Homo sapiens: one gene and its partner. The protein of the gene in region 1 interacts with the protein of each later gene in a biochemical or structural test. Each region holds a gene or a part of one and is shown in the gene's direction. Other genes may lie near its edges. The genes, in order: DACH1 and SMAD4.

Region 1 (3,833 bases):
CTTTTGTCAGTCAAGTAAAATAGTCATTTCGATTGCATTGTATGAGCAACATAGAAAACAACTACTGCAAAATATAATGGGAAATTAAACTCTCACAGGTTGTAAACTGTCTCCCTTTGAATCCTTGTCTGAAGAAATTAATTTGAACTATGCCTTCTAAATAGGTACAGGTGAGTCATCTAGATTTCATTAAACATTTTTATTTTAAGGTTTTTGTTACTTGGTTCTTTTAAAAAGTTAAACTTTGTTTGAATTTATCTTTCAAGTATTTCCTTTTCAGCTTGTTCACCAAAAAAAAAAAAAAAGTCACATTAAGTTATATATCTTTAGAATAACAGGAAATGTAAAAATGGATATTATTGGCTTGGGTATTTAAAAATGTAATTAAGATAAAGTTTTATCATTTTATGTTTGAATTGTTATAAAAATAGAATGACCTTAGCATATGTCAGCATGTGCCATTTTCTTACTGAGGTAATGCTTTGTGATTGGCCAGTTTAAGAGATGTATATCTGCATGCATGTGTGTGTGTGTGTGTGTACATACGTATGTCTAAATACTACATATTATATGTAGTATATTAATATATTTATATAGTATATGTAGTTTGAATATTCTAGCTAAGACTACACTTATATTTTCAGGCTTTGGGACTGCATTAAGGAGACCCTTCTCTATTATGTTTGTTATGTTCAATAATTAAATTTTTAAAGAAGAAAACTATGAATTAAGAGCCCACCTAATGGAGCTCAGATAAGTGTAACAGCAAAGGCTCTGATCTGCACAGATATGTACATCTCAGGCACAGCAGAGGCTCTGTGCAAACCTACATTTTGCTCAAATTTCTTGTTTCCTTCTTCTCAATCTGCCAAAAATATTTCTAGTAAAAAGTAATTTTTGCTACTGTGGCTGTCTTGTAACTAACTTTTATTTGCTGATATTCGCTTTTTAGCAAATGTCACATACAGGAATGACTTCATTAGGATAGTATAGTTAGTTTACCAAATTATTGCTTTGGAAAACAAGAATACCAAGGATAAGATATTTATATTTGGTCCACTAATTAGTTATTATTAGATTACTGGTGGATTACTTTATTTGTTACACCTATTTATTTTAAGGAGGTTTCTGAGAATCTGTTAAGAGTGTGTCCATTGTTGCTAGTTTTAGGCAGCTAATGATTAGCTTTATATATAAATGTACAAATGACAATGAAAAGAATTTTCAATCCACTATAAATTAGTTATTAGACAATCAATAAAAAGGTCATTGTTTTTCAAATTAATGATACAATTAAAATTAATTTAATGAATAGCAGATAAATGTCCAATTAAAAAATATATGTCACATCACATATAATGACCCAAATCACCACTTGATCCAAAGTCAAGGACCTTGAACCAAATGCATTTAAAATGTATTGGTTTATTCGGACATAGATTTCCTTTATAAGAGAAAAGCATTCGAATTCACCCATTTAAAAAAAATCATCTTTCATTCTTTCTAAATTGGACATTAAATTTGCCAATGACTGCATTGTGTTAAAGGTGTGGTCCTTTTGCTTTCTGATCCAAATTGGCTTGGAATTGATCCAGGATTTCAAGCTGGGATTCTTCTGCACATTTAAATGTATGTGACTTGATTGGAAGTTGTCAAAGACAACTCATTAAACTGGAAATCTCACTATGTCATTGTTTAATTGGTCTTTTTTTGTTGTTGTTATAAGTATATTGAAGTGTTGTAAACTACAAGCACAGCAACACACTGAATAGCCAGTTACTTTTTAAAAAAGTTTTAGAGAGTAGTGATTGATACTGAGAGAGAGACACACAGAGAGAGAGATACAGAGAGAGAGAGAGAGAGAGAGAGGCAGAGAGAGGCAGAGAGAGAGAGTGCTTAACTGAAGTATCTATAATAATGTACCGTACAGGTTGAATACAATACCTGGAATACATTACATTTTTCTAGCAGGAAGTAAAAGTGAAATAAGCCAGGCACAGAAAGACAAATACTGCATGATATCACTTACATGTGGAATCTAAAAAAGTTGAACTCATAGATGCAGAGAGTAGAATGGTGGTTACCAGGGACTGGAGAGCTGTTGGTCTAAGGTTACAAAATTTCAGTTAGATAGGAAGAAAATGTTGTACAACGTGGTGATTATATTTTCTATGATTTGAAAAATAGAAATAAATATACTTTGATTTGACTATAAGTAGATCTTTAAGAATCCTGAAGTGGATTTTGAAGATAGCCTATATTTTTGACAAAAAAAATATGGATATACTTTTAAAGCATGATTTTCATGAAGCAAATACTGCAATAGGCCACATAGTACATTGGTTGATGTTGATTGGTAACATTGAATAATTGAGAAATGTTTTTGTTTCCTTAGCGTATATGAATGGAGTGGTAAACATGAAGTATTAAAAAGTCACAGTGTTAAATGATCTTTGAATTTGTATGGTATCAAGTGTTTGTAAATAATTAGATTGCCTTTCCAGTTACAACAGGAAAAAAATAACCTTATTTTTCTTCAAGGGCAAACAAAATATATCTTAAGAAAGAAAGTGTACTACTTGAAAGGGAGATATTTTATGGAAACATACAGAAGCATTTGCAGTAAATATTTATCAATTCCATTTAAGGGATACTGGTCATTTCTTCAGTAAAGGCAATGAAAATAAATCTCTAGAATATGTTAACTAAGAAATAGTGTATTACATTCACTTATCAGGCAGATGGAGTATTTTGTTAAAATCTTAAACTGTATCCTGATATTTTATTAGTAGCAACAGTAAATGGGCTGTTTTATTCATAGTCTTATATTTTAAAGACATATTGTTTATGTATGAACAAAGTAAATCACTTAAGGTGTAACAAATCTTTGAACCCATCATAGTTCTGCTAAAATATACTGATGCATTCAACAGTATTACTTTCTATTTTATGTTTCAAATTTAGGATTTTTATTTAATTTGATTATTCAAAATGATATTATCTTCTTGAGTTAGGCACTTACACTTAAATAGTGCCTTTTGATTTTAAAAGAATAACCTGGAACACTTTTATTTTTCATAATACCTGTCACACATTTTATATGAGGATGAATGTTCTTGTGTGTGCAACAAGTGTAAAATTTTTATCAGTAGTTTAGAGAACTCTGTGGTGGATATTTTTTATATGTATTAGCATTAGCTCATTTGTACTCTATGCTTTAAATAATTGTCGTACATTTGGTAGAAAAGCCTTTACATACATGTATATGTGTTGTGTAGGAATACATTCACACACACACACGCAAACATAACATATACACCTGTAGGATGTAGGGCCACAGGACAAATAACTTAGGAAAATACAATTGGCTTTAATTTTACCTTTTTGTAGCACATAAAAACATGAAACAATACATCAATAAACAGGTCCTATTTTACTGAAATACAACAGAAAAAAAGAATTAATTTTAGAGTTAAAGAAGTAGTTTATACTTAAATATTTTAGATATAATTATGCAAGGCTATATGGTTATTAGGACAGTGATTAAAAACAGCTTAATTTTTCTAAACCTTTTTTATGATAATGTACTTTAAATTCTCTGTTTAAAAATATATGTATAAGAATTATTTTATTTGTATAAAATAGATATTAAACGATTGGGTATTAGAATCTGTACATTATTAAATGACACTACATGTGCTTGATGCCCTTGCTCTCTTTCTTTTATTGGTTTATTTCATTGCTTCTTGCACTTAGAGCCAGCATATCCTTTAGAATCAGTGAATAAATGATAGGAAAACAATTTCATAACATAAAGGAAAAGAGACTGTTCT
Region 2 (3,833 bases), on another chromosome or scaffold:
AAATAATTTTTATGTATTTGGGCTTGATGTAATAATTGTTGTTTACAAATAAAAATTAGAAATACTTGATCAGTTGTCTTTGTAAACCAGAGTAGCACCTCTTTTTTCCCAGTGATTTAAAATTATATATTATTGTTCAAATGAGTACACTAAATACATCTCCAAAGTTAAAATTGTGGTAGTTAACATGACCTGACTTCACTAAAAATACCTTTTGCTATGGCATAGGTGGGACAAATGACCTTCTACCCAAGAGACAGTTGAGAATCTGTGTGTACAACAACTGTGTGATTAGAGTATAATTAACCTTAACTCAGGGATGGGATAGCTGACTTGCTTATGCACTTTCTCTCAATTAGGGAATCTATAAAAATATGTCATGAGTCGATGTTATTCAAGGACAGTTCCCTGGAATACATCTTAGGGTCAGTGTGTTTTTAAAAAATAAAAGTTGAGACTACATAGAGAATATGTGTAGTCAAATGAAATACCATGGTAAAATAATTTATTTTAGATTCTGATTATTTCTGTTCTTTAAATTCTCAGTTGACCTGGTCCTTTGAGGTAAGAACCAAATTCCAGATTTTAAAAAATGACTTTTAGAACTTGAGGATAAGTGGTAATTGGAAATTAAAAAAAAAAATTAGTGTTTTAAGAACAGTGCTAAGTACTGAGCTAGAAAATAGAAGACATGGAAATTCCTACCTTTTAATGCATTATGTTATTTTAATCCAGTTGTTTTGGGTGCATTACATTTCCATCTCCCCTCCCTTTACCCTTTCTTTTAGGAAAAACTGTGTTGTGGAGTGCAAGTGAAAGCCTTATATCTTTCTCATGGGAGGATGTTCTTTCCCATTTATTTCCTATAGCTCCTGAGTATTGGTGTTCCATTGCTTACTTTGAAATGGATGTTCAGGTAGGAGAGACATTTAAGGTTCCTTCAAGCTGCCCTATTGTTACTGTTGATGGATACGTGGACCCTTCTGGAGGAGATCGCTTTTGTTTGGGTCAACTCTCCAATGTCCACAGGACAGAAGCCATTGAGAGAGCAAGGTATTGATTGTATAGTCAGATAGTTACTTTAAAAAATTGAGCATAGTACATTGTCTTTTATTCAAGGTTATGTTTTCCCATGTACATTATATGTGTTCTTAAATATAAATAAAGGAATAAAGGTCATGTTGAAAACTCAGAATTTGTAAGCACTCCATCTTAATTGTCGGTGTTTTTGTTGTTTAACATATAATGATAAAAGATAGCCTTTTTTATGTTAGTAGGTTTCTATGTTTCGAATAGTAAGTATACCTTTTGAAATTCAGTTTGAAAATTTTATTTTCTGTGATCATACATTTCTACAAATTACTGAAAGGAAGTAATATTAAATGAGAACATGTTTCTGAAAGTTTTACTTATAATGTTAAAAAAATTGGTAATAAAAGGGAAATGGTTAAGTAAATTATGATAAATTTTTCCTTTTTTATACAGTCATTAAAATGTTTAAAAGTTTATATAATGAGGCTGGGTGCGGTGGCTCACACCTATAATCCCAGCACTTTGGGAGGCGGAGTCAGGCAGATCACTTGAGGTCAGGAGTTCGAGACCAGCCTGGCCAACATGGTGAAACCCTGTCTCTACCAAAAATTAGCCATATGTGGTGGTGTCCACCTGTAATCCCAGCTACTCAGGAGGCTGAGACAGGAGAATTGCTTGAACCCAGGAGGTGGAGGTTGCAGTGAGCTGAGATCGTGCCACTGCACCCCAGCCTGGGTGACAGAGTGAGACTCCATTTCAAAAAAAAAAAAAAAAAAAGTTTATATAATGAAATGGAAATGCTTACAGTGAAATATTACAGGAACATTCCATTTTAGCTACTGTATGATCTCGGCTTTTAAGGATGTGTGTGCTAAAGAACATAATCTTGGCTCTATCACTTGCTGTCATGTGACTTTGGCAAATTACCTAACCTCTAAGCCATTCTGCCTAATAGAATTTTCTGTGATGAAGAAAATGATTTATATTTGCACTGTCCAGTTCGGTAGCCACTAGCCACATGTAACTATTGAGCACTTAAATTATAGCTCACTTGATTGACTAATCGGATTTCTAATTAGTTTTAATTTAATTTAAATAGTCACATGTGGCTAGTGGCTATCAATTTGGACAGTATGCCTTAGTTTCTTTATCTAAAAAAATTAGAATAATAGTACTTGTTGAGTTGTAAGGGTTTAATGAGAATTCATACTACATGCTCCTGACACATAGTAAGTGTTGTAAATATGTGCATCATTATTAGATATGAACAGGAAAAGAAAAAAGGAAATATACAAAAATGTTAATAGCTATCTTTTGGTTTTATGTGATCTTTATTTTTAATTTTTCAATATTAAGCATGCTATACAATCTGAACTAAAATTTAATTTAAAATACTTATCAAGATAAAATGTAATTTCTTTTTTCTTCCTAAGGTTGCACATAGGCAAAGGTGTGCAGTTGGAATGTAAAGGTGAAGGTGATGTTTGGGTCAGGTGCCTTAGTGACCACGCGGTCTTTGTACAGAGTTACTACTTAGACAGAGAAGCTGGGCGTGCACCTGGAGATGCTGTTCATAAGATCTACCCAAGTGCATATATAAAGGTTAGTTACAATTTTATTTGAATATTTTAGACTTAAAGCTCTATTTGTTGTCAAAAGAATTGAAATCTGGGTGGAAGGAATGGAAAAATGTTTTATATATTAAATAATAAGAAATTGTGTTTAAGTATAAAAAACACATTTTCTGAGGGCATTTATTGACATTATCAGTAATCTAGTTTTATCGTTGCCAATTTGTTACATTTTGTTTTTTATTTTATTTATTTATTTATTTATTTATTTTTGAGACAGAGTCTTGCTCTCGTCGCCCAGGCTGGAATGCAGTGGCGTGATCTCGGCTCACTGCAACCTGCGCCTCCTGGGTTCAAGCAATTCTCGTGCCTCAGCATCCCAAGTAGCTGGGATTACAGGCACATGTTACTGTGCCTGGCAATTTTTTGTATTTTTAGTAGAGACGGGGTTTCACCATGTTGGCCAGGCTGGTCTCGAACTCCTGACCTAAAGTGATCCGCCCAACTTGGCCTCCCAAAGTGCTGGGATTACAGGTGTGAACCACTGTGCCAGGCCTGTTACATGTTTTAGAGTAATACAAAGGCTCTTGAAAATACTGAGTGAAGCCTCCAAAGTTGTATTCCTGTAACTTGAAATTTGTAAGAATCAGACTCTGGACTTTCATCTTAGCCAATCTTCAGGATTTTATGGAAGAGAATTCTAAAATTAATAGCTTTTCAAATTAAGAACCTGATAAGCCTGAAATATTTTTCACTAGTTATATATTCAACCTGTTTGAATTTTACTTTATAATATAACCTGTTTTTGAAAGAGAAAGGCAGTTGTAATTAGATAGCCTAAATATATTTTTAATTGTGTGTCATCCTCAACATTTTCATTGTCAGTGATTGTAAATTGGTAGAATTAACTGTGTCTCATAACTTATTACCAGGAAGTTGCTTAGGATAAAAATAATGTAGCCCCATAGCATCCATAAAAATGGAATTGCCTGATTACCTCACAACAGCAAACCCAGTTTCTCATTTCCAGTTATAGTTCAGTTAAAGAATGTTGGAATTTTTTTATATGACACTTTTAAACATGCCAAGTATAGCGAAAATAATAAACCACATGTACCTATCATCCAGCTGCAACAATTATCAGCACTTTACCAATCTTTAATGTGTTTCTCCCCCAACTTTTTTTTCCTGGAGTCGTTGAAAGCCAATTCCAAACAGCATAGTCACTCA

What was found.
Region 2: the proteins of DACH1 (region 1) and SMAD4 form a complex in vitro, tested with the Homo sapiens proteins (one study listed by BioGRID).

What each region holds. Positions count from the first base shown.
Region 1 is NC_000013.11:71,856,929-71,860,761, reverse strand, and holds part of DACH1 (dachshund homolog 1), read left to right. Parts: intron 1-3,833. UniProt on the Homo sapiens protein: Transcription factor that is involved in regulation of organogenesis. Seems to be a regulator of SIX1, SIX6 and probably SIX5.
Region 2 is NC_000018.10:51,064,554-51,068,386, forward strand, and holds part of SMAD4 (mothers against decapentaplegic homolog 4), read left to right. Parts: intron 1-869; coding exon 870-1,053; coding exon of another isoform or gene 1,054-1,060; exon of another isoform or gene 1,061-1,192; intron 1,193-2,465; coding exon 2,466-2,634; intron 2,635-3,833. UniProt on the Homo sapiens protein: In muscle physiology, plays a central role in the balance between atrophy and hypertrophy. When recruited by MSTN, promotes atrophy response via phosphorylated SMAD2/4.